2 separate regions of the Homo sapiens genome follow, and region 2 is linked to region 1. Evidence: fine-mapped expression QTL. A gene starts in region 1. The other region holds a variant in brackets. All regions are shown on one strand. Distances are between the middles of the regions. Region 1 holds the start of RBSN (rabenosyn, RAB effector). Region 2 overlaps NR2C2 (nuclear receptor subfamily 2 group C member 2).

What was found.
Region 2: its variant is fine-mapped to the expression of RBSN in whole blood (TOPMed, PIP above 0.99).

Annotation. Positions count from the first base shown.
Region 1 is chr3:15,095,998-15,101,504 of GRCh38, reverse strand. It overlaps RBSN (rabenosyn, RAB effector), which reads left to right and starts at 2,357. Exons shown (of 14, transcript NM_022340.4): 1 at 2,357-2,470; 2 at 3,231-3,386; 3 at 4,795-4,970; 4 at 5,217-5,507. The coding sequence starts at 5,385. RefSeq lists enhancers at 2,270-2,399, 2,288-3,152 and a silencer at 3,490-3,569.
Region 2 is chr3:14,981,452-14,986,670 of GRCh38, reverse strand. The region is part of intron 1 of NR2C2 (nuclear receptor subfamily 2 group C member 2); the gene reads right to left. Among named protein-coding and RNA genes, the nearest start is that of FGD5-AS1, 36 kb to the right of the region's middle. The variant C/T (reference allele first, on the strand shown) is at 2,621.

The DNA.
Region 1 (5,507 bases):
AAATATTAGTCATTTTTATTATTATCAAACTGGAAATAGTCATAGAGTTGCCTAAAGGATTAAAGAAAGTACTTTTGATGAAGTGTGAAGCATATAGGAAGGTCTTTGTCATTATCATTAACAGTATCGGCCAGGCGCGGTGGCTCACGCCTGTAATCCGAGCACTTTGGGAGGCCGAGGCGGATGGATCACGAGGTCAGGAGATTGAGACCATCCTGGCTAACACAGTGAAACCCTGTCCCTACTAAAAATACAAAAAATTAGCCGGGCGTGGTGGCGGGTGCCTGTAGTCCCAGCTACTCGGGAGGCTGAGGCAGGAGAATGGCATAAACCTGGGAGGCGGAGCTTGCAGTGAGCTGAGATCACGCCACTGCACTCCAGCCTGGGGGACAGAGTGAGACTCTGCCTCAAAAAAAAAAAAAAAAAAAAAAGAAAAAAGAAAAAAAAGAAACAATATCAAGAGCAGTGCCCAATCCACTGTGATTTCCAGAATTAACTTACAAGTTGAGGCCACATAGCTATTGCTTTTTTGAGCAAATGAAATGATGAATATGATATTTTTTTCTTTTCTTTTCTTTCTTTTTTTTTTTTTTTTTTGAGGTGGAGTTTCACTTTGTTGCCCAGGCTGGAGTGCAGTGGGACAATCTTGGCTCCCTGCAAACTCTGCCTCCTGGGTTCAAGCAATTCTTCTGCCTCAACCTCCTGAGTAGCTGGGATTACAGGCGAGCGACACCACACTCGACTAATGTTTTATATGTTTGGTAGAGACAGAGTTTCACCATGTTGGCCAGGCTGGTCTTGAACTCCTGACCTCAAGTTATCTGCCCACCTCGGCCTCCCAAAGTGCTGGGATTACAGGCGTGAGCCACCGCGCCCGACCAAATATGTTTTTTGTAAATGATAAAATGACAAGCAAAAATCATGATGGTTTAATAAACGTTCATTGCCCTACCCAAAACATAGTCCTGCCTGTAAGTGTGGCTCGTTTTGGGACCTCGGTGGCTTCAGACTTTCAAAAGGGTGGTTTTACTCCCAAAGTCCTGGCTTTTGGGACCTAAGGCAGAAGCTAGTGATGGAGACGGGGAGCTTGGCATGTTGCTTTGCTTCTGACAGGTTAGGAAGCCTCTTCCTTGTCTCCATCAGTAAACAAAGGGAAGTCATTATTCGCTCCTGCAGATGTTGTAACGTTAAAAAAAAATTGGCCATCAGATTGAGAGAAAAGGCTAAGTCACTGGAGCCAATTTCTTTTGTACAGATGAGAGAACTCAGGCGAAGAAAGGGGAAAGGACCTGCTCAAAGCCACAAAGTAACGTACAGCCAGGGCTAGAACCCAGATCTCTAGACCCCTAGTTCACTGCCCTTTCACTGGTGATTGCTTTCCAAAAACTCAATGCTCTCCAAGTCCGGAGCCCCATGTCCTTAAATGGAAGGTGATGGAGGCTCAGTGCTCCTGTCCAGAGACCAGGTGGGGAAGACTTTTTGGAGGCAGGGAAAGTGAGATGGGCAAAGCCAATATGCAGGACACCCTCCTACCTACCTACCTACCGTGCAATTACCTCAATCTTCACAACACTGTGAAGCGGAGACTATCATTATCATCCCCATTTTACTTCTGTAAAAGGGGGCCAGTAACACTGCAGGGATGTAAACGGAGGCCCAGGATCGTCCCATCGTCCCATCGTTCTCTGCAGCTCTTGCTCCTAGAGGCTGGCTATTGCTAAGGTCCAGAACGTGTGCAGGGCACAAAGCAAATAGGTCTCCGGGACTGGGATGAGGTTTTGCCTCTCTATACCCCGTGGTACCCAGCACAGCGTAGGCACGGGGTAGGTCCTGGCTGATCAATCGTCCTGCCTTTTGAAAATGCCATCTTTTCCACAGGCTTGGCCATGCTGTACACCCCGGGATACACCTTCTCATACCAAGTCTCCACTCTCATGTGGTTCTATTCTTGGACTTTCCATCGCCTCCACGTCCCCTGAATATTTTTTCTGTCTCTAGCTCTCAGGAACTTTGATTCCTTGGCTGCCTTATTCTTTGTGCACTTTGGTCAAGAGCCAAAGATCTACTGGTCTCAGCTTTCCCACCTGTACAAGGCGGTGCAGAGCCATTGGCTGGCTTTGACGCGCTATTAGTTCGAATTCGGGACGTAAGAACCGCACAAAATTACCGAGCCCCACTTTCTCTCCGCTCCCCACCATCCCCTCCCTCGTTCGGAAAGCGCCTGCGCAGAAGCCGCCGGCCCGCCCTCCACTATTCGAATCCGTATCCGCCCTTTTCGCGCCCTCGAAGACTCGGCGCTCGACAGGCGTCTACCAGCTTGTCTTCCGGTTTCGTCGCCGCCGCAGGCGCACCTGCCGAGTTCCGAGCGACCGATGGAGATGGCGGCTGCGGCTGAGTGACGGACGGTGGAGGCCCAGAGCCCGGGCCTGAAGGGGGGGACAAACCTGGGTGCCCGCAGGAGCCCGGCAGGGTACATACAGAGGGTCAGGCCCAGTCTGGGGGGCGGGGACACGACTCCTCCAGAACGGAGACGGGCGGGCCGTGTGTGGTTGTGGTGGGTGTGACGTGAGAGGTGGGAGATGGGGCTTTCAGGCCGTGCGTTTCGCTTGTGTGTGCCTTTGATGATTGGGCTCTGTGTGGTTGTGCGGTTACGCGGGGCGTATACACTTGGGTTTGGTTGTGCAGCTGTGGGTGGAGTGGGTGGGTGCTTGTCTCCCGAGCGGTTGTGTTTGATTCTCTGGTTGTGTAAAGCTGAAGCGTTTGTATTCTGAGTTCGTGTGGAGATGTTCGGAGTGTTTTGTGTGGTGTCTGTGCGATGTGTGACGTTGTCATGTCTGCTTCACGGGATTGAGTCGTTCGTGTTGTGTGTGGTCATGCGATGTGTGTATAATCATGTTAGTTATGTGGGTTGTGGTTGCGATCGTGAGGCCGGGTTGAGTGCGGCTGTGGGATGTGTCGTCGATGCGGCATGTGGCGGGGTGACATTCATGCTGGATGTACGGCTGCAGAACATGTAGCTATATTTATTTTTTTTATTTTTATTTTTTTTACTTTTTACGTGATTTAGAGTGCGAGGGGCTTGCTTATGTGTTCAGTTATGGTTGTGGGGTCCAATTCGGTGGTTGTGTTAGATTTCTTTATGGTGTATGCTTAGTTATATGATTTTGGAGTTCATTCATTTCTTCGTTCATTCATGGAGCTTTATTGTGCTGCTTCATTGTGTGTGCCAGGTACTGTGCTAAACCCTGGGGAGACGGCGAAGTGGAAAACATATAGAGTCTGTGCCCTCCCAGATTTTACAGTCTTACTTGGTCACTTCACGTATGTACCTGCGGTTATAAATTGAGATGAGTGCTGTGAAGGAGAAGTCCATTCTGATGCTCTGAGTAAGAGGCATTTCTTTTGAGGAAGTGAGGTTTGGGTTTGGGCTGAGGCGTGAAGGGTGGTTGTGTGGCATGGATGTGGTGGGCTTTGTGTTATTTGTGGTCGTTAGGGGTGAGTGCATGGGAAGAAAGGGAGCTGTCAGAGTCAGCATCAGATGAACCACTGGCTGGGGAGGGAACAGGCCAGACCTAGGGCTGCTATATTCCAGTGGAAAAGTTATGAAGTCACTGGGTTTCTTAACTAGAGGGAAAAAATAGGGACCTGGTGTCTCATTTGTTTATTTTCTGAGTTGCTGCCACCCTTCAGCTTTGAGGACCAGGCAGTCCCTCCTCGGTGGTCTTCTACAGTCCATCCAAAGCTGAGGGTCACACATCTCCCCTCACTATATACTGTGGCTTGTATCCCCAGGTTCTTGGGGAGAAATTTCTCTGCTTTTGTGGAATGGTTTTGTCTCAATTTCTCTTGTGACTGGGTGTCTTGATGAGGTGACATTGGAAGTGACTTTGCCATGAGCCAGTAAGAAAGAGAATGTAACTTATTAAGCCCTGAAGTGTTTAGGCCCCAAATCAATTTATTTATTTATTTATTTATTTATTTACTTTTTTGAGATGGAGTTTCGCTCTTGTTGCCCAGGCTGGAGTGCAATGGCATGATCTCGGCTCACTGCAACTTCCGCCTCCTGGGTTCAAGCAGTTCTCCTGCCTCAGTACCCCCACTAGCTGGGATTACAGGCGCCTACCACCACACCCGGCAAATTTTTGTATTTTTAGTAGAGATAGGGTTTCACCATATTGGCCAGGCTGGTCTCGAACTCCTGACCTCAGGTGATCCGCCTGCCTTGGCCTCCCAAAGTGCTGGGATTACAGGCTTGAGCCACCATGCCTGGCCAGCCTTTTATTTTTGAAGCAGTGAGAACATCAGGTTTGCTACTTAACTGTCACTTAATGGCTTATAAGATCTGTCAGGGTGCAGTGGCTCACATCTGTAATCTCAGCAGTTTGGGGGGGCTCAGGCAGGAGGATTGCCTGAGGCCAGGAGTTAGAGACCTGCCTGGGAAACATAGCAAGAACCTGTCTCTATAAATAATTTAAAAACTAGCTGGGTGTGGTGGCATACTCCTGTAGTCCCAGCTTCTTAGGAGGCTGAGGCAGGAGGATCACTTGAACCGAGAAGGTCGAGGCTGTTGTGAGCAATTATAGCTCACTGGGTGACAGAGCAAGATGCTGTCTCTTAAAAAGGAAAATATAGTACGCCCATTAGAGATAAGTGCTCTACAAATATAAAATAGATTTTTTCTTTTTGACTAGTAGGTTTCTATTGTTTCTCTTTAACTGATGTTAGGATTTTTGATTTTTTGTATGTTTTTATGGCAGATACTATATCTTTTTCATCTTTGCATTTCTAACACAGGTGTCTTACAAGTATCAAGAACTTACTATATGTGGTTGAATAAACAATCAAGGTAAAGAGCATCAAGTAAAAACTTCTGCTTGTTGATAAGTACTTCAGACATTCCCCCAGTGGCTGAAGTGGCATATGAATTATGAAGTTGGATCATTTGGAATGAATGTAAGAGAATTGCCAAGGTATTGTTTGCTTATTTCAAGAATCTGTGCTTCCCACTTCATTGAGTTTTTGTTCTCCAGTGATGTTTTCACATTTTAGGTTTTGCAGCTTGCTTGGTCTAAGGATTTGAGAAAGAGTTTGTTTTCTCAAACTTGCACTGAATAAACATTAAGTACCCCATTGAACTGTGAAAAGAATGAAGAAAATCCTCAATTGCTACCAGTTTGCCTGAATTGGCTTTTTTCCCTTCTTCTTTTCTTTCTTAGGGCTCCTCCTACTCCAGAGAGGAAACCTCATCCAGGGCCATGAAGCCACTTCCTCACCATCTGTGTGCTGCTTAAGCTAATGCTGCGGGAACCATGGTTCCTTGGGAGGAATCAAGCTGACTCTTGGCATGAGATTCCTGCCTTCCTAGGGTTGAGAGCGGCACTGCCATGGCTTCTCTGGACGACCCAGGGGAAGTGAGGGAGGGCTTCCTCTGCCCTCTGTGCCTGAAGGATCTGCAGTCTTTCTATCAGCTTCACTCACATTACGAGGAAGAACACTCAGGGGAAGAC
Region 2 (5,219 bases), 110 kb after region 1:
CAAGGTCTTTTTTAAAGTATCAGACACTAAAGGTATACCTCAGACACAGATTTCAAGAAAGGAGATGTTCTCTATGACAGAATGTCATTACTCTGTGGCAAGACATACCGTAAGAAATCATTTTGGCACAACACTTCCACATAAGGTATGGATCTTTTGCAAGGACATCATCCTTCCTCAATTTTCTCCTTCTTAATAACTCCTCCTGTCAACCGTTTTTATCATAAGTAAGTCTAGTCTCACTTATTCTAACATTAATTCCATTTAACATTTATTCCAGCTGACTCTACATTTCATCTACAAAACAATTGTATCTTCTTAGTACCCTTATTTAAGTATGTACTTACTTAAGAAGTATGTGACTTGTCATATCATCTTTGGTAGTTATTCCTAAGCATTTACATGAAATACACATTATTTCATAATAGGCTGCTTTCCTTTTATTTCTCCTGAATATAATTATTATTATATATTGATTTTTGTAAGTTATTTGCATATGAATGCTTTTATTTTCTATGAGTATCACCTTGGTACAGTAAAAGGGTCTTTAAAAAAATACTGTTTAAAAAGGGGGCACTGAGTCTGAAGGAATTGGAAACCCCTAAGAGGAAGGTTCTCACAGTATGTACTCGATGCATACCTGCTGAATTAATAACTGATCTAGTTAATGGTGCTACTTCTTGCATATGAAGTTATGTGACTGTTAAAAAACTGTTGGGAAAAAAAAGAAAAACCCTTAGAAGACACACTTTGACCCAGATAGCTTTTAATTTCAAATTCTACTTCTAGTCTACAGAGATACTCCCACATATGAGCCCAAGGAGGCATATATAAAGATGTCCATCACTGTACTATTTATGCTTGAGAAAATCTGGAAAAAACTTAAATGTGCATCTAATTGGAAAATACTTCAATGTGCAAACTTAAATGCACATCTTAGAGGAGTAGCTAAATAAATATAGCTCTAATCTATAAAATATGAGAGTAAAAAGGAATTATGTGTATCTCTAAATCTGAGACAGTTAAAAGAATCAGCTTTCAGAACATCATAACCAGTGTGATTCCATTTAGTTTAAATTTTAAAAACCTATATATTTCTATAGCTACATAAACATGGATGTAAATACTTAACAAAAATTCTGGAAGAAAACATAAACTAAAAATAAATTAAGCCAATTTCAAAGAATCAGTATCATAAAGATCAGATCCTCTGATTACATTGTGATTAAATTAAAACGTAACAAAAAGGTAATCACAGATGTAAAACCTAGAGCTATAAAACTTTTAGTGAAAACACAGGAGAAAAATGTGACCTTGGATTAGGCGAAGATTTTAAAATATGACATTAAAAGCATGATTCATAAAAATTTAAAACAACCACTATCAAAATAAAAAAATCTATTCTTCAAGAGACTCTGCCAAGATAATGAAAATATAAGCCATAGATTGGGAGAAAAACATTTGCAAACCATATAGCTCATACAGGACATGTATCTTATCCAGAATATATAAAGAACTCCCAAAACTCAAGAAAAGAAATAACTCAATTTTAATAATAGGCAAAAGATTTGATAAAACACTTCATCAAAGATGATGTATGGATGGCAAATAATCACATGAAAAGATGTTCAACATTATTAGTCATCAGAGAAATGCAAATTAAAATTACAATTAAGAGCTAGTACACATCTATTAGAATGCCTAAGAGTAAAAAGACTGACAATATTAAGAGTTGGCAAGGATGTAGGGCAACTAGAACTCTCCTGCACTGCAAGCAGGAATATGAACTCATACAATGACTTTGGAAAACAATTTGGCAGTCTCTTTAAAAAAAAAAACCACCATATGATCCAGCAATTCCACTCCTAGCTATCTACCCAAGAAAAAGAAAAGCATATGTTCTCACAAAGACATACACAAATGTTCACAGCAACTTTAGTTGTAATAGTCAAAAACTGGAAGTAACCCAAATGTCCATCAACAGGTGAATGGATTAAGCATATCTATACAATGGATACAACGTAAAAAGGAATTAAATACTGATATATGCAACAATACGGATGAGTCTCAAATAACTTCGCTAAATGAAAGAAGCAAGACAAAAAAAGTGGACACATGATTTCTTTAATAGAAAATTCTAGAAAACGCAAATCCATCTAAAACAATTAGAAGATCAGTGGTTGCCTAGGGATAGATGTGGCTAGAGCTATACTCAGAAGACAATATACAGCCTAATGCTTATATTAGAAAAGAAGAAAGGCTGAGATATCAATAAGCTGAGTATCTATCCTAAAAATTTATAAAAAGAATAGCAAAATAGGTGCAAAGAAAGTAGAAGGAAGAAAATAATAAAGACAAATTAATCAGTGATAAAACAACTCTGGTGAAAATGACCAGGGAAAAAAAGAGAGATGACAAATAATACTAGGATTGCAAAGGAGACTATAACTGGAGATACTTCAAACATTAAAAATAGAAAACAAGGCCAGGCATGGTGGCTCACGCCTGTAATCCCAGCACTTTGGGAGGCTGAGGCAGGTGGATCACCTGAGGTCGGGAGTTCGAGACCAGCCTGACCAACATGGAGAAATCCCATCTCTACTAAAAATACAAAATTAGC[C/T]AGGCGTGGTGGCTCATGCCTGTAATCCCAGCTACTCGGGAGGCTGAGGCAGGAGAACTGCTTGAACCCGGGAGGTGGAGGTTGCAGTGAGCCAAGATCGCGCCATTGCACTCCAACCTTGGCAACAGGAGTGAAACTCCATCTCAAAAATAAAAAAATATAATAATAAAAAAATACAAAACAAGGATGTTCTAAAAACTAGATGCCAATAAATTTGAAAACTCAGACAAAATGAACAAATTCTTTGAAGAAGGTACAACTTATTAAAACTGAGTCAATCACAACTAAAAAATCCGAATAGTCTTAACCATTAAAGAAATTCTATCAGTAGTTAAAAATTTTTCCAGGCACCAACAGTTTTACTGGTGTGTTCTATAAGCATTTAAGGACCAAATAATTCTCATTTTATATACATTATTATAGGAGGGAGGAGAAAAGGGAACCTTCTCCCAACTCATTTTATGAGGCTAGCATAAATTTAAGAAAAATTAAAAGTTAATCTCACTCATGAACACAGATGCAAAATCCCTAAACAAAATGTTAGCAAACTAAGAATGTGTGTGTGTGTGTGTGTGTGTGTGTGTGTGTATAAAGAGTATAATCCAGATTAACCTATCAAGTTGAGATTAACTGCAGAATACAAGATGGGTTTAATATTACAAAGTCAAGCTAATTCACATTACCTGATCAAAAAAGAGAAATCATATGATCATCTCAGATCATAAAAAAAAAGAGCATCTGACAATCGAACTCATGGAGATAGAGAATGGAATGATGGTTATCCGAGGCTAGGAAGGGTAGTGGCGGGGATGGTTAATGGGTACAAAATATAGTTAGATACAATAAATAAGATCTAATATTTGATAGCACTACAGCGTAATTACAGTCCGCAATAAGTTGTACATTTCAGTATAACTGAGGGAGTACAACTGGAATGTTCATAACACAAAGAAATGATGAATGCTTGAGGTAATGGATATCCCATTTACCCTGATGTAATTATTATGCATTGTATACTTGTACCAAAATATCTCATGCACCCTACAAATATATACACCTACTATGTATTCACAAAATTAAAAATTAAAAAAATTTTTAAAAATAGCATTTGATAAAATTCAGTATTTGCTGAATATAACAACTTTTATTCCAATGTCCTTAATCGAATAAAGGCTCATAGCAAATTGTTGAAATCATTCCTTTTAAGATGAGGAACAAGGCAAGGATGCCTGCTATCAACACTTCCATTCAACACTGTACTGGAGCTCTCTGCCAGAATAAGTCAAGACAAAAACATAAGGATTAGAAAGAAAAAGATAAGACTGTCATTAAATCATAGATAACATAAAAATCTAAATGAATTTATTAGAATTCGTAAGAGCAAGATTGTTAAAAAAATCTATAAACAAAATCATTTACATTTCTATATACCAGTGAGAGAAAATAAAATTTCAATAAGATATTTATAAATAGCATCATAGAACATAAAACATTGGGAAATAAAGACGTGCTTAATTTTTGCAGAAAAAAAATCAAAGAAAACTTAAATAAATTGAAAGATTTTCCATGATGGATCGGAAGACTCAATATGATGAAGAGATCAACTCTCTCTAAATTGATTCATTTAAGTATTTGCAATTCCAACTCTGAAAAGTCAGCAGTCAGCAGGTTTTTGTTTCCATATGTGTATAACCCTAACAAGCTAATTTAAAAATTTAGAATGGGCACAGTGGCTCACAACTGCTTGAGCCCAGGAGTTGCAGACCACTCTGGGCAACATAGCAAGAACCCATCTCTACAATACTAAGTAAGTAAATAAATAGCTGGGTATGGTGGCGCACACCTGTAGTCCTAGCTACTTGGAAGGGTGAGGTGGAAGGACTGCTTGAGCCCAAGAGTGAGGCTGCAGTGAGCTACAACCCTGTCGTTGTACTATAGCCTGGGCGACAGTGTGATGTTGATATTAAGTGTCAACCTGATTGGACTGAAGGATGTAAAGTATTATTCCTGGGTGTGTTTGTGAGGGTGTTGCCAAACGAGATTAACATTTGAGTCAGTGGACTAGGAGAGGCAGACCCACCCTCAATCTGAGAAAGCACCATCTAGTTAGCTGCCAGCCCAGCTAGGATAAAAGCGTACAGAGGAACATGGAAGGACTAGACTGCCTATGTCTTCTGGCCTCCATCTTTCTCCTGTGCTGGATGCTTCCTGCCCTCGAACATCGAACTCCAAGTTTTTCAGCTTTCAGACTCTTGGACCTATACCAGTGGCCTGCCAGGGGCTCTCAGGCCTTTGGCCACCGACTGAAGGCTGCACTGTTGGCCTCCCTACTTTTGAGGACTTGGGACTCGGACTGACTTCCTTGCTCCTCAGCTTGCAGATGGCCTACTGTGGGACTTCACCTTGTGATCATGTGAATCAATACTCTTTTTTTTTTTTTTTTTTTTTGAGACAGAGCCTCGCTCTGTCGCCCAGGATGGAGTGCAGTGGCGGGATCTCGGCTAACTGCAAGCTCCACCTCCTGGGTTCATGCCATTCTCCTGCCTCAGTCTCCCACGTAGCTGGGAGTACAGGCGCCCACCACCACACCTGGCTAATT